Homo sapiens: one gene and its partners. The protein of the gene in region 4 purifies or fractionates together with the protein of the main gene of each other region. This does not show direct contact. Each region holds a gene or a part of one and is shown on either strand. Other genes may lie near its edges. The genes, in order: TRAP1, ZFYVE19, CSRP1, UFM1, KIFBP, MSI2 and RFK.

Region 1 (3,500 bases), on a different chromosome or scaffold from region 4:
TTGGTTTCAGGACCCCCCTTGGATAGCAAAGTCTGCAGATGCTCCAGTCCCGGATTAAATTGGTGCCGTATATTGTAGACACATCTTCTTGTATGCTTTAGATGGTCTCTAGGTTAGTTATAATACCTGATAGAATGTAAATGCTAGATATAGATATAACATAGTTATGTTTTTTATACTACTTTTTATCATTGTGTTGTTTTTTATTTTTTTTCTGAGTATTTTCGATCCTTGGCTGGTTGAATCTGCAAATGTGGAACCCGTAGATAGGAGGACCAACTGTATTGGCTCACTGCAACCTCTGCCTCCCGGTTCAAGCAACTCTCCTGCCTCAGCCTCCCAAGTAGCTGGGATTACAGGCACGAGCCACCACGCCTGGCCAATTTTTTGTATCTTTAGTAGAGACGGGGTTTCACCATGTTGGCCGGGCTATCCTCCAGCCTCAGCCTCCTGAGGCGTGACTACAGGTGCACGTCACTATGCCCAGACCCACAGAGCAGTTCTGACCAGAACCATCAAACCCACAGACGCCGCATCCCAAGCCCGTTCTCATCACGGCGCTGTGTGAGAGGGGACTGATCCCTCTGACCCTCTCTGCGTCAAGCCCACAAGGCTCAGGGAATCGACTTTGCAGAAAAGTGCTGTGAGGCAGAGCAACACATTTGGACTCAGACCAACAGCCTGGGAACCTCCAGCGGTCGCCCTTTTCCAGCTCTGGGCAAAGCACTTACTTCAGTCTCCTCATCTGTAAGATGAAAACACTAGGTCGGGTGCGGTGGCTCACGCCTGTAACCCCAGTACTTTGGGAGGCCGAGGCAGGTGGATCACGAGGTCAGGAGATGGAGACCATCCTGGCTAACACGGTGAAACCCCGTCTCTACTAAAAATACAAAAATTAGCTGGGCGTGGTGGTGGTACCTGTCATCCCAGCTACTCGGGAGGCTGAGGCGGGAGAATCACTTGAACCCGGGAGGCAGAGGTTGCAGTGAGCTGAGATCACGCCACCGCGCTCCAGCCTGCGCGACAGAGCGACACTCCATCTCAAAAACAACAACAACAACAACAACAAACAAAAAACCCACCCTAACTGTGACTTGACCCCCACGTTACGTCTTTTGTTGTATTTCTCTCGAGGTTGGTCTGCTGTCCTGTGTAGCGGCCACCAGCTGCATGTGGCAGTTTAAATGTAAATGCATTCAAATTAAATAAAAGGGGACATTGTGCTCCTCAGCTGCACAGGCCACATTGCAGGTGCTCGGCAGGCTGTCGCATTGCACCTGGCAGAACGTTCCTGTTGTTGGAGAAAGTTCCATCGGACAACGTGGGCCAGGGCAGTGGGCGTGTGTATTTTACTTGACTTTGGCCTTAGGACCTTTGGCAGTATTATAGTAGAAAAATGAAGTGCTGTGCGGTGCTTACAGACGCATGCGCGTGATTTCTACTCTTTTTCCCACAAAGTGTAGAGTCCAGGAGACTTGAATATGGAAGCCAGTTTGGAGCCTCTCCTCACTCCTGGCCTTCCTATGGAAGGAGCTTATTCAAGGGAAAGAGCTTATTCAAGCTGCTCTTTCCCCACCCCCAGGTGTGACCCACAGGCCTCCACCTGTCTGGGACAGGCAGGACTGTGAGCTTTGGGAATCAAATGGAAAACACACTTGTCCCACTGCTGCCAGCTGGTTGTCCTAGGGCTAATGTGTCACCTCTCTGTGACTTAGCTCTTCACGTGTAGAATGGGGTGGAAAAGTACTCGGTGTGGCTGTTTTCAGGATGAAGGGGTCTTAGCGGTGCTCGCAGAAGAGCCACGGTGTTGGGAGTGTCTGCTCTCTGGAGGGGAGGCTGCCTCACTAACTGGCCTCTGCCCCACAGGCCTTCCTGGATGCTCTGCAGAACCAGGCTGAGGCCAGCAGCAAGATCATCGGCCAGTTTGGAGTGGGTTTCTACTCAGCTTTCATGGTGGCTGACAGAGTGGAGGTCTATTCCCGCTCGGCAGCCCCGGGGAGCCTGGGTTACCAGTGGCTTTCAGATGGGTGAGTGACGAATGTCGCCTGACAGGCAGCTCAAAGCTGAGCTGGAGCCCTTAGCATGGAGTTTGGAAAGGGATGGACTCAGAAAACGTACACAGGCATTTTCTGGGCTTTTTATATGAAATCTGACTCTCCCATTTTGGGGAGTTAGTGACTTTTGTGGCTCCAGGTGGCCTATGGCACCTGTCTGGTCCCATGTGGTTGGTCACCACCACTGCGCTCGGGAAGGCAGGTCCGGCCCGCGCTGAGCTCCTTTCTCAGTGGCTGAGCTGCAGGACTGGCCTGTCGCCTGGTGGACACTATGCAGCCTCCTGTGACCGACCTTCTGCAAGAGCTCATTCTGCTTCCTCCCAGCCCTGGCATTTCCTGGCTTTGTCTCCCCAGCCCACTTCTGCCTCTATAGGGTGAGGAGCCTGCTGGGGGCTTTTTTTTTTTTTTTTTCCTTTGGGACGGAGTTTTACTCTTGTTGCCTAGGCTGGAGTGCAATGGCACAATCTTGGCTCACTGCCACCTCCGCCTCCCAGGTTCAAGCAATTGGCCTGCCTCAGCCTCCTGAGTAGCTGGGACTACAGGCGCATGCCACCACGCCCAGCTAATTTTGTATTTTTAGTAGAGACAGGGTTTCTCCATGTTGGTCAGACTGGTCTCGAACCCCGACCTCAGGTGATCTGCCCGTCTTGGCCTCCCAAAGTGCTGGGATTATAGACGTGAGCCACCACGCCTGGCTCCGAGGGCTTTTTAGCAGGTGAGCCGCTTCCAGCCAGCCGAGGCGTCCTCCCTCCGTGATGCCATTTCTGCTCCACAGTGTGTGCACTGTGCTCAGCTTGACTCCCCACTCTCCCAAAACTAACATTCCTGTTTAATTCCATGGGAGCGGGGCTCAGAGTAAACTTAGGCCAAGGCATCAACATGGCCCTGCCGGGGGATTCCCCCCTCCTGTGCTTCGGAGATGGTTTTCTGCTCTTCTTAGGGGGCGCCTGTCCCCCTGGCCTTTGTTTTTGCCCCTGGGCATCTGGCACCCGATTTGGAGCTGGGCCAGTCCCCCACAGTGCCCCAGGCCTGCTTTTGGGGTAAGCCCAGAAGCTTCTTCGAAGCCCAGGGTCGGTGGAGGACCCCCGCCCCCCCGCCCCCCGCCCGAGGGAACCAGGAGAACTCTGCCGCCTGCGACAGGCTCATCGTTCCTGATGGGCATGTGATGGCCTGAGTGGTGCGCTGGGGTCAGAAATGGGGCATTTGAGGTGTGTTGTGTGTTGTTTGGGCTCTGCCTATGAAACCCTCGGGAACCGCTGGAGTCCCATGCAGGGTATGTCCCAGTGTCACATCCACCTGGCTTTTCCTTTCTTTGCCTGCCTTAGTTCTGGAGTGTTTGAAATCGCCGAAGCTTCGGGAGTTAGAACCGGGACAAAAATCATCATCCACCTGAAATCCGACTGCAAGGAGTTTTCCAGCGAGGCCCGGGTGCGAGGTGAGCGGGAG
Region 2 (2,748 bases), on a different chromosome or scaffold from region 4:
GGAGGGACATTTGCATACTCCTACTGTCTGTGTGGTCACAGCTAGTTTCTGTCAGCTGGGCTCTCTGGGAGAAAGCTGGCTGTTGTCCAATGCCTTCCTTGGCAGCCAAGTGGATAAAACCTTTAGGAGCCCCAGCTCAATGGAGTGTGGAACATATCTGTGCTGAGGGACAGGGGAGGAGAGAATGAAGTGATACACAGGAAGGCCACAACCTAAGTCACTTGGCTGTGCCCACACACCTCATCCATCCATCCATCCAAAGGACTCAAGAATTCAAAGACGAAAGTCACAGCTCCACTTCAGAGAGATCACAATCTAGCAAGGCCTCGGGGCCAAGCAGACATTATCTGCCTAAGGTACACAGCCTACTGGCATAACCAACAAGAGGGACGCCAATGGCAAAGACTAGTTTCAAATCCCAGAGAGGAAGTAACAGGAAAAACCTAGCTGGATCTGAGAGCCTCAGAAAAGGCTCTTCCAACCAAAAGTGATGCAGGAGGTAGACCTCAGCCCGAGGGCTCTTTATAGTTGGTTCCAGCCAGGGGCAGGAAGAGAAACAGCAGAGGCAATGCAGAGGCATGTAAAGGGTACATGCCGAGAGGTCAGGGGTCCGGTTAGGGCGCATTACTGGAAGAGAGATACTGAGACTGAATGGCAGGCAGGTTGGGACAGGAGCCCTAGGAGCTGGGGTCCTTTGCCAGTAAGGCAGGAAGCAGGGTGTGTGTGCATTGTTCCTGCGTGCATTGTGTGAGTAGTAGAGAGGCTGAGAAATCCAAGATGGTGGGGACTGGTGGCTAAGTGGGGCTGCCCAGAGCTGGAGCACAGTTGAGTTGAATGAATACATGTTTACTTCGTATGAGGCCACCAGGATGGGTAGGGCTGTTCCTGCCTGGAGAAGTTCATAGGATGGCTCAACCTTTTCCCCCATTCCCCACAACTGTGCTTACAGCCTGCTCTGTTCCTGCCACCTCTCACAGGGCCCAGGCTCATAGGGTTGTAGAAATGAGATGCTGGGCCCAATGAATCAACATACTTTATTAGACCCACTAAGTGCCAGGGGAGGGGCCTGTGCCCTAGAGCCAGGTTACAGGGCTCACCCGTAGATTCAGTCTGGTCTCTCCCCATCATGCCTCTCACTTCCAGTCTGGGCTTCTAATAGGAGGGCCCCGACTTCTTCCCTCCCAGTCATTCTCTCGAATGGAGAATCTTTCCTCATTCCAGGGACACCAAGGCTCAGGAAGGGGCCTATCCATCATCAGTAGAGCCAGACAAGCTCTCCCATCGGACGTCCTGTGGCTGGGCCCAGAAATGGGTGCCGCTGCCTGTGGGACTGCCCTTCCGGGAGGACCAGGGTGTCTTCAGTGCTCTTGGCCTGCACGTGGAGGAGAGTAGGCAGATGTCTGGTGCTCTTTAAGCTCAAAGGCATCATGGCCCTCTCTGTGGAACAAAGGGATACAAGTCAGGGATCCAGGCAGCCCTTGAGCTCTCGCACAGAACATTCCACCTGCACCCACCGGAAGCAGCGGGCACAGAAGAGGTCCCCATCGCAGCCAGCGCAGCGTAGGGTGGCATCCTCATTGCAGATGCAGCACCAGGGGAGCTCCTCTTCCTCAGCCTCAGGCCTGGGGTCCACATCCTGGGCCTTCAGGGATCAGAGAGGAATGGAGGAAGTAAGGTACCCAGTGGGGTATGTGAGCTGCTGCAGGAGCAGTCAGCCAGGCAGGAAGCAAGGCTGGGGGGAGCCTGGGGGTCTGCATCTGGGGCTTTTCTCACCTCAGGCTCTGCCCCGCGGGGTTGCGTCCAGGGTCGAGAAGCCTGCTCTGCAGGGATGTTAAAGCCACTTGCCTCATCCAGGGAAGCTTCTTCAGTGAGCTGCGGACAGGGTGAAGATGTACTACTCCCCTGCTTCAGGCCCAGGCCCTCCATCTCCCAGTATTTCTGTGCACTGTGGACTTAGCTTCTCAAACTCATCTTTTTCTTTACTTGTGGCCTGTGGCTGCTGATTCCCTATCTCCAGGGACCAGTGGGCAGGTCTGGGTCTGGGTCACAGGAGGGGGCCCAAAGAGAACAGGAGCTTCACAGTTACTGTCCACCCAGCCCCAGAGTAGAGGTGGGGCAATGAGGCGGAGACGGGACAAGGGGTGGCAGGTGGGTAATCCAGGCCCACCTGCTGCAGGACTCTTTGGATGGCTGTCTCCTCATCCTCGTCGTCATCACTGTCTGGGAGGCGATAGTCCTGGAGGGTCACTTGAAGAGGGAGACATGGGAACAGGGGATGGGGGAGTGAGAGTGAGAGATTTCACATGAGTGGCTGCCCTCCTGCCTCCCAGAACTGGTTCGGTTCCCAGGGGCACTTATTCCAGAGCTGAGAAGCCTCTTCAGCCACCCTGATGACCTGTCCCTGCCTGCCCCAGCCCTGCAGGGCTGGGCCATCACTGAAGCAGGCCTGAGGGCTAGGTTGGGGGCTGGAGCGAAAGCCTCAGCCCCTGAATGGACTGAAGGTCCCCTGCCCTCATGGCTGCCCCTGACTCCTCACCCACTGCTTTGCTCTACCACCTTCCTTGTGGCTCTGGGCTGGGCTCAGTAGATCTCTGGGCGCAAATACCCCCAGCACCTGACTCAGCCCTGCCAGGGAGGCCTTGACCAAGGGATACCAGTGAGCAGCTGCTCCCCAGCCTTCACCTCTCTCGGGGTCCTGTCCCCGCAGCATGGCTAGTCGCTTGGCCAGGGCCAGAATCCGTTCCTGCC
Region 3 (3,500 bases), on a different chromosome or scaffold from region 4:
TCAGGCAGTGCCTGTGGATGAGGTCCTGTCCCCCTCTGCCCACAAGAGGACCCCTCCAGGTGACCCTGCCTGTGGGGAAGAGGCTCAGCTGGAGGGAACCCTGGCAACAGGCAGGGCTCAGTCTTCACTCCACCTCCTCCCTTTCTGCCCTTCTCTCCAACAGCCAAATTCTGCCTGTAGGGAGGCCGAATTGCCTTAAAAGGAAACCTGTTTCTCAGAGTTCATGGAGTGCCTTAGAGGGACACTTGGCTCCTTCTTAATTGCCTTCCCAGCTCTCCGGCACAGAGGCCCTGCAGAAGGCTGGGACAAGAGAAGTTCCCAAGGTCAGAGTTCAGGCTGTACAGGTCAATGGTTAGGAAAACAAGAGCTGGGATTCGATCAATATGGATTTACCCCTTCCTAGCTGAATGATCTTGGGCAAGTTACTTTCCTTTCTGAGTGTCAATTTGCTTGTCTCTAAAATGGACCGTATATGGACTCCCTAAAATTCAGCTGTAAGGATTAAATGAGGAGGTATGGAAGTGATGGCCAGCACACTGTAAGTGCCCGCCCCTCTGACTACCACTCACACGACTGGACCAGTCATACGTCGACTCCACACTGCTAGATGTGGGCCAGCCATCCACATGTAGCTAGTCCACATATGGAAGGAGCGAGGCTTAAGAAGTACCATGCCAAATAGGGCCAGGAACTCCTGATTCATCTGCTAGCCCAGCGAATGAGTCTGGGACAAGTTACTTGCCCTTCTTTGGGGTTTAGCTCCCCCCAGCTGTCTGTGATGTCCCATTTCACTCTGTTGACCATCTCAACAGAGAACAGAGCTTGAATTTTCTACTGAATGGCTGGAAACACCTGGTCAGCTGTTTTCCTGAAACGGCTGGCGGCTAGAAGCCTGCTGTGTCTGCTGCTGCATCTTCCTAGCCTGGCTGTCCCATTAGGACTGTACCCAGATCCCCAGTTAGGACTGTACCCAGATCCTCAGCCTTGAGACAAGAAAGCCAAGGTGGCAGCTCTTACAGCAGCAGCAAAAGGAGAAGAAAAAGGTCACAGACTCTCAGTCACCCCAAATCTCATGAAAGTCAGGCTCGGCTGGGTGTGGTGGCTCACGCCTGTAATCCTTGCACTTTGGGAGGCTGAGGCAGGCGGATCACTTGAGGTCAGGAGTTCGAGACCGGCCTGGCCAATGTAGTGAAACCCCATCTTTAATAAAAATACAAAAATTAGCCGGGTATGGTGGCGGGCACCTGTAATCCCAGCTACTCCGGAGGCTGAGGCATGAGAATTGCTTGAAACAGGAGATGGAGGTTGCAGTGAGCAGCGATCTTGCCACTGCACTCCAGCCTGGGCAATAAAGCAATACTCAGTCTCAAAATAAATAAATAAATAAATAAATAAATAAATAAATAAAGTCTGGCTCAGGTGACAGGTTGAAGGAACCATCGCAGAGATGTAAAATCCCTAACTGCCAGCCACCAGTGTCTGAAGGCAAGCCCCTTCTTATCAAACCCTTCAAAACCATCCCATATCTTTATTTCTACAGTGGAAAAATCCCATCTCTCCCATTCCAAAATCATTTATTCCCTAGGGCCAAAGAGTGACTGACGGCACAGGGTTAAAGTCCCCATCCACTTGCTCCAGTAGAAACCTGTCAGATGTTTATCTAGCTCCCTCGCATTAGCTGAGCTGCTTGGTATCTGCCAGGTGGACAGGAGGGCTGGCATCCCTTCCAATCTGCAGCTCGGCTTTTGCCTCCACGCCCCAGTGTCCAGAGAGCAGCTGAGGGCAGAGAGAGGAGGGGGCTGGGCTGGTCAGGGCTCAGAGCCAAGTCTTAGAAGTGACACCTGAGAGCTCAGGAAATCAGCCTCTCCTGAAGCTCAGGGTCACGGGTAGGGGGAGAATGGCTGCCATGGAGATGGGGCAGGCTTGGCCTCAGCTTTCCATGTCCCACCTCATGTTTCCTTCAGAACCGTGCACATGACCCGCCTCTCTGAAAAGGTAACCAGCATCACTGAGCTACCATCAATCCAGGCCCCATGGGCCTCCAGAACTTGACTGTCATTCTAGGTCAGGAATCCTTCTCTCTATTGAATGAGCTTTCTCTTTTCAAATCCATGTCCAGTGGCCCTTGTGAGACTGTGAGCTGACAAGGGCGGTATATGTCTCTCCCTTTCCCCACTTGCCCCCAGTGCCTTCTAGAGCAGAGCTCCCTACTCTTGGAGTTCAGAAGTTTGCAGGGCGCAGTGGCTCATTCCTATAATCCTAGCACTTGGGGAGGCTGAGGTGGGTGGATCATTTAAGGTCAGGAGTTTGAGACCAGCCTGGCCAACAGCGTGAAACCCCATCTCTACTAAATATACAAAAAAAAAAAAAAAATTAGCTGAGTGTGATGGTGCACACCTGTAATCCCAGCTACTTGGGAGGCTGAGGCAGGAGAATTGCTTGAACCCGGAGGCAGAGGTTGCAGTGAGCCAAGATCGTGCCACTGCACTCCAGCCTGGGGGACAAAAGCGAAACTCTGTCTCAAAAAAAAGAAGTCTGAAGGTCAACACAGGTAGAAATGGAGGTCGATGACTTCTTTGTAGTATTTCAAAACTTCTACAGGAAATCCTGTATTATAATAAAGCCTCATAGACAAATTAACAGATGGGGTTTCCTTGCTTTTATCCAGATCTGTAATGATGTTGGTTATTCCATGCTGAACAAAATGGTCTGAATGATTTTTCTTTGATTAATTTTTTACAAGTTAAAACACATTAGCACTTAGGCCTTAAAAACACAGGTCGTTTGCAGCTGACATCCCAGGAAGCACCAACACACGCCACCCCTGCATAAAGAAAGCCAGGCACACAGTCGGGGGTAGGGGGTGCTGGCTGCCTAGCTGGGGCTGAGCTCCAGCTGCTAACCTTCCATTTCTTCCCCTGTTGTCACCGCTGAAGACTCAGACGCTGCCTTCTGGCCCTGGGGAAGCACTGGAAATACCAGAGTCTGGAAATGCTAGCTGCCCCCGTATTTACACACTTTACCATACATGGGAATTACTCAGTGCTGGCGTCAGACACATTCCTGGGTAGCTGCGTAGTACAGGCACGTCATTACCATATAAATTCTTGACAACTAGAAACAGCAGTCGGAACCCAGGACCCCTCCACCTCACCTTCTCTGCCCTCCCCTCAAGTTTTGCTAGCTCTCTCTTTCTCAAGCACGCTCTTTTCCAGGCTTGTTTTCTTTCTGCAAACCTGGCTCTGAAACTCAAACATGCAGAGCTGGTGAAAGCATATCCATTAGTGGCTGGGAACTAACTCTCAGGGGTCCCCTCTGCTCCTACCTGGCCATGCAACAGACTGAAAACCCGGAGGTCAGGAGTTCTAACCCTGATCCATCCAAGTGAAAGATATCTTCCTTAAATAGTTTATAAGCCACTGTAAAGCACCTTGTAAAGCTGATGTGTTTCACAAATGGCAGATATTTCCTTAGTGAGTTGATCTGGAAAAAGGAAATGT
Region 4 (3,500 bases):
TATGAGACTACTTTTACCCTGTCTCCTGGTCAGGACACCAATATATCACCTGTATAAATTTAACAGTTTGAAGATCTGAATGTAGACTCAGCCCCTTGAAATGTAAATGACTATATTTAAAAAAAATAATAGCACTTAATGAATGCTTTCTATAAATAATCCAAGCTATGAAGCACTTTACAGTCACTATCTCACAACTACCTTAAGAGGTAGGTCAAAAAATACTCCAATTAGAAAGCAATCTTATCTACAGACTTTTTGTTATATATAATAAATACTCTTAATGCTTAAGCCACTATTAGGTTTTCTGTTACTTGTAGCCAAAAACATCTACAATCAATATACACAATGAAACAACTTATTACTCAGACACACAGGTAAAGACTGGTATATAATCCCTAAAAAACAGCTCCATTATGTTAAAATACTGTCAAGTGTAATTAGAATAGCTTAACTATTCAGTGTCAATTGACATATATAACCCCACCCACTCCTCTATGAGTTTTCAAATACTCACCAGCAGTCTGTGCAGGATTTATTCCTATTCCATCTAGAAAATAAGTTGTAAAATCACATACATTATTTCTAAAGCTAAAATGGTTAAATAGTAGCAAGGAAAGAGATTTGCCAAAATAGTGCTGTTGTGTATATAGACATAAGCCAAACACTTTAAATCCAAGAACACGAGTGACAATCTTTCAGGTAAATTATCTGTTGAAATCTACTATTATTCTGCATTCATACACATTGCTGGGTTAGACAAAAACGTCTGTCAATGCAATGATCCTGGTAAGTTCTATGGAATATAGGTTATTAATTCTATTTTGCCATATAGAATTAAAAATAATGTTTGTCCTTTCTTCCAAAAAACTAAAAAGCCCCTTAGGTATGCCATGAATCATCTTCGTATTGTTCTAGGTCATAATATCTTAAGGCTGGGAGAGCTCACAAAGTCATTTAGTTCAACACGTTACTAAGTTATGACCTAAAACTTTCCAGGTAGTAAGCCAGCTTTTTTCCAACAGAGAAACACTTCAATGTGACAGAATGCAGAATATTTTAGAGTGAGAAATTCTACCTTATCTAAGTTACATCACGCACATTAAGCCCATCTCCTGTCCAAACTGCACTTGGGCAACGCATCAGCACTCATCAATACTGCATTGTATACTTGAAACACAGTTAAGCCCTCCCTGCAATCTTTACTCCTCATCTTATTATTTCACTATTTTCTCACAAGACTAATTCCATCATCATTGATTATCAGTGTTCCAAGATATTAAGATTTTTAATTATATACCTAAAACGGAATAAAATTCTCATTATTGCAAGCCTACAAGAAACAATTTTCTATCAGGAAAGGTATAGCAAAGATACATTCCTGCTTAACTTTCTATATTCTAAAGCATTTACCAAACAACTTTACTTAATAAAAAAAAAAACTTGCTAAATAAAGTTATTTTCAGTTATAATCTGGCATGAACTGGTAAGGACAAAAGATATTATAAAGTGCTATACTATATCAAAAGCTATATACAAAGAAATGAAAGGAGCTAATTATTAACAATAACCCTGACTTAGTGTTTACCAGTAAGTATATCATTTATGTTGATATACATATACTTGGGGCTTTTTGTATTTAATTTTAATTAATTTGGTTCCTTTTACACCATTTCTATAAATTTGAGGTAATACATAATTTTATAGTGAATTCTTACCATTGGTAATAATTGCACTTGTTGCAGCAGGAACTTTAAACTAAATAGAAGGAAAAAAAAATATATATATATATACACACACACACACACACACAAAACTATAAGATAATTAGCAAGAATGGGGTACAAATACCAATTCTATAATTCTAAAGTAGGATTAATCTTTTAGAATAAGTGAAACTATCAAGGAAAGTACAGCTGACCCTTGAATGACATATGCAGATTTTCTTCTGCCTCCGCTACTCCTGAGACAGCAAGACCAACCCTTCCTCTTCCTTCTCCTCAGTATATTCAACACAAGACAAGGATTAAGACCTTTCCCATGGTCCACTTCCACTTAATGAATAGTAAATATACTTTCTGTTATGATTTTCTTAGTATTTTTTCTTTAACGTTATTGTAAGAATACAGTATATAATACACATAACAAAATACATATTAATCGCCTGTCTGTGTTATCAGTAAGGCTTCCAGTCAACAGTAGGCTATTAGTAAAGTTTTTGAGAAATAAAAAAGTTTTATGCAGATTTTCAACTGCACAGGGGGTTGGAACCCCTAACTCCCACGTTATTCAAGGGTCAACTGGACTATATCATATGCTTTATCTGTAAAAAAAAAACCCTGTATTATAAACAGTGCTTTTGATTGTATTTAGGACACCATTAATTATAAAAGTGTACCTTATATTATACATTACAAAAATGAAAAACCACTGTCAATTTATGCCCAGATCAATGTTTACTCTTTAGGACTTATCCATCAATTTTGTCATTTATAATTCTCTTGAACAGCAAAAAGTACATGCAAAATAAACTGATGAGATTATTCCTAAAATTTCTCCATAGAAATTGCAAGATCTGAACAGATGCTCTCTGTGTTTAATGGGAGGTGCCTACCGAAGATTTTCAGGTAACAACCAAGGCTTGTATTCCTTACATTCCTCTGTAATGATTTGCTGATTTAAAGCTCAAGGATTGCAATAGTCCAATTATGTCATTAGGAAATAATAATTAAGTGTAGATGATGTTACCTAGACAATTAAGTGAAAGCCATTTGGCCAACAGTGATAGCAAGCCTCCCCTGATCTATTTCAGAGATGTTTAAAAAGATGTGTTTTTTAAATCAATGAAATGTGGTATGGAATTTATTGGTAGCTAAAAGGTAGATTCCATCTCTTAAAGAGACCAGCAGTTGCCAAAGTGTGTTTATGTCTTCACAGTTTATGCATTTATCCAACAAATTTAAGCATGTTTGTGCTATGGACTAACTTTATAGATATTATAGTTGAGTTTTGTGATCAAGTTTGGAAAACACATTTAACTAGTGGTCTTCTCAAAAGCCTTTAATATACTCCTAACAGAAATGAAGTGTTTCTCGTATTTTTTGACCAGTAATCCCTGTTCTTCATGAAGTTTTTTTTTTTTTTTTTTTGGTGGTACTAATTTGTGTGTGGTTCTAGTTGTCTGGGAAACACTACTCTAGGCATCTATAATCATTACATATACATAGTTGAGAAAAACTAAAAGCTTATTTTAAATTAGAAATTGAAGAATCAACTTTTAAAATAAGGCCTTAAACATACCTGAGAACAATTATTTGTTATAGTATTATGTACAAATTAATAATAAACACATTTTAATCTCAATGTGGTACACTCTTGTGTCCTTTTAAAGATTTTAAAATTTTTAAAGAATTTCAAAGTGTACTTAAGTAAACTTAAAAATGCATCACAAATATTTTGCACAGGCTGTAATCTCAATAAGAATTTGATCAAACACTCAA
Region 5 (2,340 bases), on a different chromosome or scaffold from region 4:
ATTACAGGCATAAGCCACCACACTCAGCCATGAATGATATTTTTTTTTTGAGACAGAGTCTCGCTCTGTCACCCAGGCTGGAGTGCAGTGCCACAATCTCGGCTCACTGCAAGCTCTGCCTCCTGGGTTCACGCCATTCTCCTGCCTCAGCCTCCCAAGTAGCTGGGACTACAGGCGCACGCGGCCACGCCCGGCTAATTTTTTGTATTTTTAGTAGAGACGGGGTTTCACCGTGTTAGCCAGGATGGTCTCGATCTCCTGACCTTGTGATCCGCCTGCCTCAGCCTCCCAAAGTGCCGGGATTACAGGCATGAGACACGGTGCCTGGCCCATGAATGATATTTTAATGTTTTCTAACTGTGCAATGTTATTGAAGAAATATTCTTCTCTAGCTTCAAATAAGCTAGTATCTTTGAGGTATCAAAAAATACCTCAAAGGTATTGAGGTATCAATGTATTGAGGTATCAGTGCTCACAAGAAAACAAAAAGGAAACAGAAGTTTTCATTAGTGAAATAAGTCAGTTTATTTTATTTCTAACAAGGCCTTTTTCTCCTATAATTAAGACAAACCATTTTACACTTTATAATAACATAACTTAGTTTTTAGTATTTTCAAAAGGGAAAGATTTTGGGTGGGGGGAATTTAGGAAGTCAAATATTTTAGAAGGAGTAACTATAGAAGTTACTTTTTCAATCTTAATATATTAACAGGCTTGTTACCAGGTACATTACCCAGCATTTTTTCTTACAAGGAATCTATCAAGTACTAGCCAACAAATAGTCTACATTTAGAAACTGAGGGTAGAAATGTCTGTATTTTAATAGGAAACAAGCATCTAAAATACAAATCACATGTCTTTAACAAGGCAATTTACATAATTAGGTGTAAGTTTTTAATTAACTTTATGTTCCTTAGGATCCTAGCAAACACTCAGTTGACTGTATCTCAAGTTCAAACTGCACTCACCTGGCTATAAAGGTAAACATCACAATGGAATTGGGCCTGTCTGACTAGGGAAAAAGATCACTTCAATATTGCACATTTCCTTTCTTTAAAAACAAGGATTAAGTCAGGGCCATCTTGGTTCTGAATCTCTCCATTTTTGTTGGGAGAAGACTAACCATCTCTTTACTAAGTTCTAGCTCAACTTCTATTTCCTGGGCGGCCTCAGGATGCTTTTCACAGTAATCAACAATAAATTTGTAATGTTCCAATGATGTTGCCAAATTTTCCAGCTCTTTCTTGGGATCTGCAGTAATGATTTTGCCATAGAGACGGGCAACTCGAAACTTAGCTAACATGGCAGGGCGAAGAACATCTTCCCCTATATGCTCAGGGAATACTTTATTTGGGTCTCTCAGGGAGTCTAAGAAGAGCTGGTAGTACTTCAGTGCTGACTTATTAAGATTATTTATTTTTTTTACAATGTGTGAATCAGGATCCCTTAGCCTGTCAGCAATGGCAACCTTCAAATCCATCATATCATAGTAAGCATGTGCAATTTCAAACTGGATCTGTCTGTTGACCAACAGATAATACTGTGGATTCAGGTCTACAGTTAGGGGCTCTAGCATGGCTATTCTGCGTTTATGCATCTTGCACCGTCTCTCCATGTCAGTTTCAAAGAATGCAAGCACCTTAAACAGAGCACTGTGGTCTTGGACAACTTCAATATGGTCAGTGACATAACCATCAATCTGAAAGAACTCTTTTGCCTCAAAGACATAGTGCTGACCCAATAAGAAAAGTTCTCTGGCTTCTTCAAAATCTAAAGGTCTCAAGTAGCTCACTTTCTCTTCTACTGCAGAGATGGCATCACACAGTTCACCGGTTCCAAACTGCACAGCTTTTTTCCGAATGCTTTCCTCCTCATCTAGTTCTTTTTTCCTTAAAGCTCTAAGTTCAGACTGTTTATCAAGATCAAGCTCTCCTATGTTGTCCTGAAGGAAAAAAAAATAAATTATGGTTAAGTAGGACACTCACCTCCTGCTGTTAAATAATATTAAAGCAAACTTCAGAGTTTTTTAGAAGAGAAGTCTCTTACTTTCCAGCCTGGTTTAGAAGGGTATCATAATCTTAAACACCTTTGAAAACTTCTTTCTTTCTTCCGATTATATTAAAAACTCAAGAAATGTGGAAAAAAAAGTATTTAAATAGACAAGCTGCTTACATATCATTTATTCTGAGGAACTGAAATTTATTTACAGTTACTCCTTCCAATAAGATAAATGCTACATGTAAAAGTACTTTGAGAATTGTGAAACATTATATATATGTGATACATTACTCCCAGCACTTTGGGAGGCCAAGGCGGACAGATCACGAGGTCAGGAGTTGA
Region 6 (2,834 bases), on a different chromosome or scaffold from region 4:
TCTTTAGTTTTGTGATTGTAATGATTTCCAGTAGGCAAAACTTAAAACTCCTTGAGGGCAGAGGTCTGATACCTATTCAGACCCCTACTCAGGGGTCGTGGAATGCGGTTTGGCGCCTTCTCCCAGCACTGTTGATAACTGAGGGCAGCACCCGGGAGGGCCCCTTAGCTCCTTCCACCATCTGGGTCCTCTGATCCGCAGGACCTTTGGGGTTTATTCCCTGTCCACTCATGGGTTCTGTGTACCTTCTGCTGTTAATCTACACCCCTCTCCCGTCTGCTCTTCCATCTTAGTGCTCTCTTGCCACTTCATAAAAATGGTGCCACAAGCTCCCTGGGGACAAGGCAGGGACTTCTTCGCTGCTGGAGGCCCACGGCCAGCATTCATGCTGAGGGGTGAGGGTGGCAGGTGCGATTTGATGATATCCTCTCCCGCCCAAGCAAAACAACAGCTCTCCCAGACCCCAGACCTCCTCTGCAAGTGAAAGAACACCAAACAACTCTGTTCAAAACAGTTTATTTTATTTTATTTTTTTTTTTGTCAGACAAACACATTGATTTCTGGACCACAGTAGAGGATGGAAACCTTTCACAAACTTATTTATTTGAAAATACAAATATAAAATTATACTTTCCACATCTGTGATGTGAGAGACTGCCATCCACATAGTAATTTTTTACAACAGGGCTTTAAGAAAGCCACACACAAAGACCTGAAAGATGCTTGAGATATATATATAGATAGTACATATATATGTATATATATAAAAAAAATACTCACTACCAAAGTTCTCATCAGTTTCATACTAAAGTATAAAAGTAAGGGTGAGGTCAGCCACAGTGCTAGGGAAAGTTTTATTTAGATACATTTATGTCCACATGAAACGCTTAGACTTGCATCCTATTACATATGGAATTCGGAGTTTACAATACACCATGAACGGCAGATTGGCTAGCCCACGCTACTTAAGAGGACACTCACAGATTCCACATGGGATGGTACATTATGTACAGAATACAGTAGTAGAGAACCTTCGAGGGAGGCTCTGGAACTTTTGTCTCTCAGCCTCCGGCCCCCTCCCCCATCATGCCCCTGCCTCCCGGAACTGAAATCCTGTCTGAGACAATACATTCTGATTATTTGATAGCCAGGTGTTTGGATTAAGGTTGCCCCCCTGCAGGTCCCCGACAAGAGGGATGGATTTTATTTATATGTTTTTGTGTTTTAGTTTACTTACTTTTTTTTGGTAGAAAAAAAAGAAAGAAAAAGAAAACAAACATATTACAGTATTAAAGTATTGCTTAACTTCCAGCGTCTCCTTGTGTAGTGTCTGTGCCCAGGACGGGGCTGAGCTGACGTCTGCTAGTTTTCTGCTTTGGGGTGAGGGTGGGGAAACCCGCCAGTGTCTTTCTTCAATGTGCTTGCCTGCAGTCAGTCCCTCTGCTCTCCCACTGTCTGCCTTCCTTGGAAGATAGCCTGGCTTGCGAAGCACATTCAAGAAAAAAAAAAAAAAATCTCCCCTCCCCCACCAGCCCCCCACTCTCCCTCTGTTCCTGCGTGCCACTTGCAACCAATAAAGAGAAGTATGAGTTAGTGTTTCTTTTGTAAACAATTTCATATGCAATATAATACAGAAAGCATGGCTGACCTTCAATAAAAAATGTAGTAAACGATATTGCTTTATTCTTGAATATGCTGCAGTGAGTGAATGGCAGAATGAAGCAGTGTGGAGGTGGTGGAGGAGGCTAAGTCCCTAGCCCTCGTTTGCACTAAAGATCAAAATAGGTTTTGTTTTTCTATTTGGAACCAAAAATAAATTTTTTCCCCAAAAACCCCCAAATGAAAAGGAACAACAAGCAAAACCCACCCCCAAGAAATCAAAAACAAAACAAAACCAAGAACAAAAACTGAACACCTTTCAGGTCATTAGAACCAACAATTACCCAATGATTTTTATACTAGTCTAGCAAGATGTGTGTAACATTCACTGGCTGTGATTGCTGTGCAGTGAAACAGTAAATTGACAGCAATAGAGCCATGCTACCTTAAAGTCCAAGCTACAAGTTCAAATTAAGATGAAGGTTATGAAGGATAAAAACGCAAAGGCCTGCTGGGGCTTTGTTTGAATCAAGCTAATGGGCGACTGGGATAGAGCGCGAGGCTGTTTGGTATAGAGCGCGAGGCTGTTTGTTCCCAGTGGATATAAGGAAGGCCACGAGCCAAGTCTGTGGAAGCTGCTAGAGAGCAGACCAAGGCTTGGTCATCTCCGTCAGCCCCATGCCCAGCTAGGACCGGGAATGGGTCCGGGAGCTAATGCCACTCACTCGCCTCTGCTTGGGAGGAGAGGAGTTCGGGGGTCTCAGGCAGATGGATCTGGAAGCCAGAAAGTCACCCGGTGGCTGTTTGATAATTCCGGGGAAAAGCCATCAGCCAAGAGGGTTTCTCCCCCAGGGAAGGCGAAAGGTGGTTCCCATGTTCGCCATTGAGCTTAACTGAAACAAAGACGAGGCTGAAACATCAGTGTTAAAAGAATTTACAAAAATCTTTCAAAATGGACTTCTAGATGGAATGGGGGGACTAACGTGAACCTTAAACCTAGGTAGCCACATTAAAACATATCGGATTTCCACAAGATTTGTGCTATGGGCTACTGGGTCTCTTCAAAAGGTATATAAACATCTAAAACATATTCACACAGATTATCAATTTCTTCTGAGCATTCTTAAAAAAATATTTTTTCTCTTAGTAAAATCATTTTAATATACCATGCCTCCCTCTTTTAAAAAATAAATTAAAAAAATCCAGTTTTGCATATCTAGCATTAGCATTTAAGG
Region 7 (4,138 bases), on a different chromosome or scaffold from region 4:
CTTTCACAGACAGCAATTATCAAAGTCAGTATTATAATTTTGGTTTGTAACTCCACTCTTTATTTTCTACATAATTTAAAAAATAAATGCATAAAAAAACCAATTATTAATCTTTGTTATTGGGTACCACAATGTATAAGGATGTAATCTGAGCCAGATGCAGGCAGTGGCATGTACCTATAGTCCCAGCTCTCTGGAGGCTGGAGGAGGATTACTTGAGCCCATGAGTTTGAAGCTACAGTGTGCTACAACCTGGCCTGTGAACAGCTACTGCACTTCAGTCTGGGCAACATAGTGAGACCCCATCTTTAAAAAAAAAAAAAAAGATGCAATTTCTGAGTTCTGTATGCTATTGAAATTAAGTTGGTATAAACTCAAATTAAACTTTTAGAATTTCAGGATGTTAAATATAAACCCCATGGTAACCACAAAGACAGTATCTATAGAAATACACAGAAAGCAATGAGAAAGGAATTAAAATGTCACTACAAAACAAAACAAAACAAAAAGCACACTACCACAAAAGGCAGTAATAGAGGAAATGAGGGACATAAAAGTTATAAGGCATATAAAAAACAAATAGCAAAACAGTAGATGTCCCTCCTTATCAGAAATTACTTTAAATGTAAATGAATTAAACTCTCCAATTAAAAGACAGAGATTGCCCAAAATTCCAGTATTTGAACTACGTTGTGATTACCACTGATAAGCTATTTCTGTAACGAATACTGTAATATATTATTCTAAGTCATCATACCATTTTCGGTTACAGAGCAAAATATAATGCTTACCATAGACTTCTTCGTATTCTTGTAATATGGGTTCCATCCTATGCTCACCACCATCTTATGGACATCTCCACTTCCAACACTGGCCCAACCATAGTAAATACCAGTGGATATATCAGCTGGAAGATTATCTACCACTTGCTCAGGAAAATTAGCTAAACAACAGAAGAAAATATTTTGAGTCTTACAAATTTCGTATTAAATGCCTGTAGCCGAGTGCAGTGGCTCATGTCTGTAATTCTAGGACTTTGAGAGGCCAAGGCAGGAGGCTCATGTTGAGCTCTGGGGTTTGAGACCGGCCCGGGTAACATAGTGAGATCTTACCTCTATTAAAAAATTAGCTGGGGATGGTGGCCTGCACCTATAGTCTAAGCTACCAGAGAGGCTGAGGCAGGAGGGTCAGTTGAGCCCAGCAGATGGAGGCTGCAGTAAGCTATGATCGCACTACCACTGCACTCCAGCCTGAGTGGCAGAGCCAGATTCTGTCTCAAAATAATAATAAGAAACAAACATTTGTAAAAATCACATGCAAGGCTAATGTAAATCATTACATTCACAAGACTCCTACAACTTTGCCTGTAAGTATCAATCCCATCCTTCCATTTTCCGGCTCAGATTTCCCTCTCCTATTCATGTGAATAGGTTATGAATAAAGTACCAGGTAAGTATATAAAGCTCTCCAAAAAAATCCATACTCTTTGAGTAGGATGCAAAAAACAAGTACCAGAGTAGATGGATTTTTTCAGATCTGTTCTTTCCTAACCAGGTACTGAATCACCTGAAAAGTTTCTTTCTTTTTTTTTTTTTTTTGAGACGGTGTCTCACTCTGTCGCCCAGGCTGGAGGGCAGTGGCACGATCTCGCCTCACTGCAGCCTCCGTCTCCTGGGTTCAAGCGATTCTCCTGCCTCAGGTTCCCGAGTAGCTGGGATGACAGGCACGCGCCACCATGCCCAGCTAATTTTTGTATTTTTAGCAGAGACGGGGTTTTACCATGTTGGCCAGGCTGATCTCGAACTCCTGAGCTCAGATGATCCGCCCGCCTCGGCCTCCCAAAGTGCTGGGATTACAGGCGTGAGCCACCACGCCCGGCCAAAGCTTCTTATTTTTCAAATACACAAGCTCAAGGCTGACTTAACAAGTCAAGACGCAGCTCTGGCATGTATTTCTAAGGATGAATTACAGTCAGGTCTCGATTATTGAAATTAATGTAGACAGACCAAGAAGGTTAGCTGACTCTCATTCAACTACCTATGTTATCATTTGGACATTACATAATTACAAATTAAAAACAAAACCACCTTAGACCCGGCTTGCGAGTTCAGCCGTTCTGGCCCACGTTACGTCTCTAATGGGCAAGACAAGCGCAATGCTTGACCAACTGTACCTTGGCTGGCCAAGGAGGCGTGAACGGGGAATCCTGCGATTCATCTCGGGCTTCCGGCCCTCACCACCCCTCAACCCCGTCCCCGCGGAGCTCGGAGCCAGAAGCAGGGACAAGCTCCCTCAACCGAGCCAACGGTCCTCCGCCACAGACAAGGGGATGCGGGAGGAGGAAGGGTGTGCTCTCTGCCCGCGGTCCGGAGGCCCCACGCCCCGGTCCCAAGTCCCCGGCTGCCGTCTCTCCCCGCTCCCCACGTGACCCGGCCCGGGGGACTCTGGCCGCCCTGCTCTCACCTGTGGGGATGCCCAGCTGCTTGGAGCCGCGGCCGAAGCCCCGCACCACTTGACCCCGGCAGAAGTAAGGCAGGTGCCTCATAATGCAGTCCGCTCGGGGAATGGGCTGCGGCCCGGTCTGCGCGTCCTGCGGAGCCGCCGTCGACGCGGCGCCCAGACCCCGGACCAGCCGGGGGACAGGAGCGTGAGCTCTGCCTGCCGCGGGGGCGCACCAGTGGCCGGACGACGCCGACCACAGGCCACTGCGAATCCCTGACGCCGCCGACCCAACAAATACCGCCGGGCGCCTGAGGAGCTGCGTCTCCGCTGGAGGGCAGCGGAGACAGCCGAAGTAAGTGCCGGGTGTGAGCGGGGTGGGGGGAGGGGGCGGCCCGAAGCGCAGAGCCGGCCTCCGCGCCGCCGGCGTGCGCTCCCTTCCTCAGCCGAACGCCTCGAGCCCGCTCGGCTTCCGTAGCCCCGCCCCATCATGGCCCCGCCCCGCCGCTGCCTCGCCCGGCTCCCGCCGCAAGCTCCCGCTGCAGGCTCCCGCCCCAGGCGCCTAATGTCTGGATCCCGGGCTTCGTTTCAGCCCCTGGCGATGGGAACTAATGTGGAAACCCCGTTTTCAGCCTGAGAGCCGCGAAAGCACAATTCTCGAACAATTCTGGTTTTTTTTTCTCCTTCCTCCTGTTCATAACAATCCGGAAGCCAAAGTGAGACGCTCTTTAGCTCCTTGGCAACCGCTGGGTTGAACGTCAGGCATCGCTCGTTCCGTTCGCTCTTTAAGTATTTATTAAAGCTCCAAAATTCAGCTCAAAGATCGCCTCTTCACAGAGGCTTTTCCTGGCCGCCCTACCAGAAGCGGTCGTCCTCCAGGACCACTGACCACGTTCTGGAGTTATTAATATATTCGAATGTAAGCTCCAAGGGAGAAGTCCCTGTCTGTGACGCTGTTAACCCCAGAGACTAGTGGAAGGTTACCGACATGGGCGGTGACTGTCCCCTCCAGGCTGTCTTCTTGACAATTTCACAAGCCCGATAACAGGCCGTCCCTCTACTGCAATGCAGATAGAGGCCTTCGTACCCTCGGAACTGTAAATACGCACGCTCCTAGGGAAGTAGCTCTGGGCTCACTCACAGGATATGCAGGGTGCAAGGTTATAAGAAGGTGCATCCTCTTAACGTCTCGAAGACAAAGAAGTTTTTTATTTATTTTTTTAAATTTTTAATCAATGGAATCCAGAGAAGTTTAATTTTTTTCTTTTTTGCTCTATACATTTGTATAAAATTCTGTGCAGACCGTGTAGTCTCTTTCTACCTTACATGTATGCATCTCTGATAAGATTTACCTGATATTAAATTTATGTTCTAGGCCAGGCTTGGTGGCTCACGCCTGTATTCCCAGTAGTTTGAGAGGCCGACGCGGGAGGATTGATTGAGCCCAGGAGGTCGAGGCTGCACTGAGCTATGATAACGCCACTGCACTCCAGACTGGGCGACACAGTGAGACACCCTCACCCCTTAAAAGAACTAGAGAAGAAGAAGGAAGGGAGGGAAGGGAAAGGAAAGGGGAAGGGAAAGTGAAAGGGAAGAAAAGGGAAGGGAAGGGAGAGAAGGACCCAAAGAAGCAATTATGGTCAGTTACTTATCTATACGGAATTAAACAAAGAATAATGAGAATAACGATAATAGTAAT

Evidence for each region.
Region 1: the proteins of UFM1 (region 4) and TRAP1 fractionate together in Homo sapiens (co-fractionation; one large-scale study listed by BioGRID). This does not show direct contact.
Region 2: the proteins of UFM1 (region 4) and ZFYVE19 fractionate together in Homo sapiens (co-fractionation; one large-scale study listed by BioGRID). This does not show direct contact.
Region 3: the proteins of UFM1 (region 4) and CSRP1 fractionate together in Homo sapiens (co-fractionation; one large-scale study listed by BioGRID). This does not show direct contact.
Region 5: the proteins of UFM1 (region 4) and KIFBP fractionate together in Homo sapiens (co-fractionation; one large-scale study listed by BioGRID). This does not show direct contact.
Region 6: the proteins of UFM1 (region 4) and MSI2 fractionate together in Homo sapiens (co-fractionation; one large-scale study listed by BioGRID). This does not show direct contact.
Region 7: the proteins of UFM1 (region 4) and RFK fractionate together in Homo sapiens (co-fractionation; one large-scale study listed by BioGRID). This does not show direct contact.

Annotation. Positions count from the first base shown.
Region 1 is NC_000016.10:3,676,025-3,679,524, reverse strand, and holds part of TRAP1 (heat shock protein 75 kDa, mitochondrial isoform 1 precursor), read left to right. Parts: exon of another isoform or gene 1-1,866; coding exon 1,867-2,027; exon of another isoform or gene 2,028-3,379; coding exon 3,380-3,489; exon of another isoform or gene 3,490-3,500.
Region 2 is NC_000015.10:40,812,837-40,815,584, reverse strand, and holds the end of ZFYVE19 (abscission/NoCut checkpoint regulator), read right to left. Parts: coding exon 2,683-2,748; intron 2,248-2,682; coding exon 2,168-2,247; intron 1,873-2,167; coding exon 1,774-1,872; intron 1,643-1,773; coding exon 1,515-1,642; intron 1,438-1,514; coding exon 1,359-1,437; 3' UTR 501-1,358; downstream 1-500. UniProt on the Homo sapiens protein: Key regulator of abscission step in cytokinesis: part of the cytokinesis checkpoint, a process required to delay abscission to prevent both premature resolution of intercellular chromosome bridges and accumulation of DNA damage.
Region 3 is NC_000001.11:201,500,624-201,504,123, forward strand, and holds part of CSRP1 (cysteine and glycine-rich protein 1), read right to left. Parts: intron 1-3,500. UniProt on the Homo sapiens protein: Could play a role in neuronal development.
Region 4 is NC_000013.11:38,356,351-38,359,850, reverse strand, and holds part of UFM1 (ubiquitin-fold modifier 1), read right to left. Parts: intron 1,759-3,500; coding exon 1,719-1,758; intron 551-1,718; coding exon 518-550; intron 1-517. UniProt on the Homo sapiens protein: Ubiquitin-like modifier which can be covalently attached via an isopeptide bond to lysine residues of substrate proteins as a monomer or a lysine-linked polymer.
Region 5 is NC_000010.11:69,015,143-69,017,482, reverse strand, and holds the end of KIFBP (KIF-binding protein), read right to left. Parts: intron 1,943-2,340; coding exon 1,067-1,942; 3' UTR 501-1,066; downstream 1-500. UniProt on the Homo sapiens protein: Activator of KIF1B plus-end-directed microtubule motor activity. Required for organization of axonal microtubules, and axonal outgrowth and maintenance during peripheral and central nervous system development.
Region 6 is NC_000017.11:57,682,356-57,685,189, reverse strand, and holds the end of MSI2 (RNA-binding protein Musashi homolog 2), read right to left. Parts: 3' UTR 501-2,834; downstream 1-500.
Region 7 is NC_000009.12:76,391,627-76,395,764, forward strand, and holds the start of RFK (riboflavin kinase), read right to left. Parts: upstream 2,801-4,138; 5' UTR 2,546-2,800; coding exon 2,464-2,545; exon of another isoform or gene 2,243-2,463; intron 944-2,242; coding exon 792-943; intron 1-791. UniProt on the Homo sapiens protein: Catalyzes the phosphorylation of riboflavin (vitamin B2) to form flavin-mononucleotide (FMN), hence rate-limiting enzyme in the synthesis of FAD. Essential for TNF-induced reactive oxygen species (ROS) production.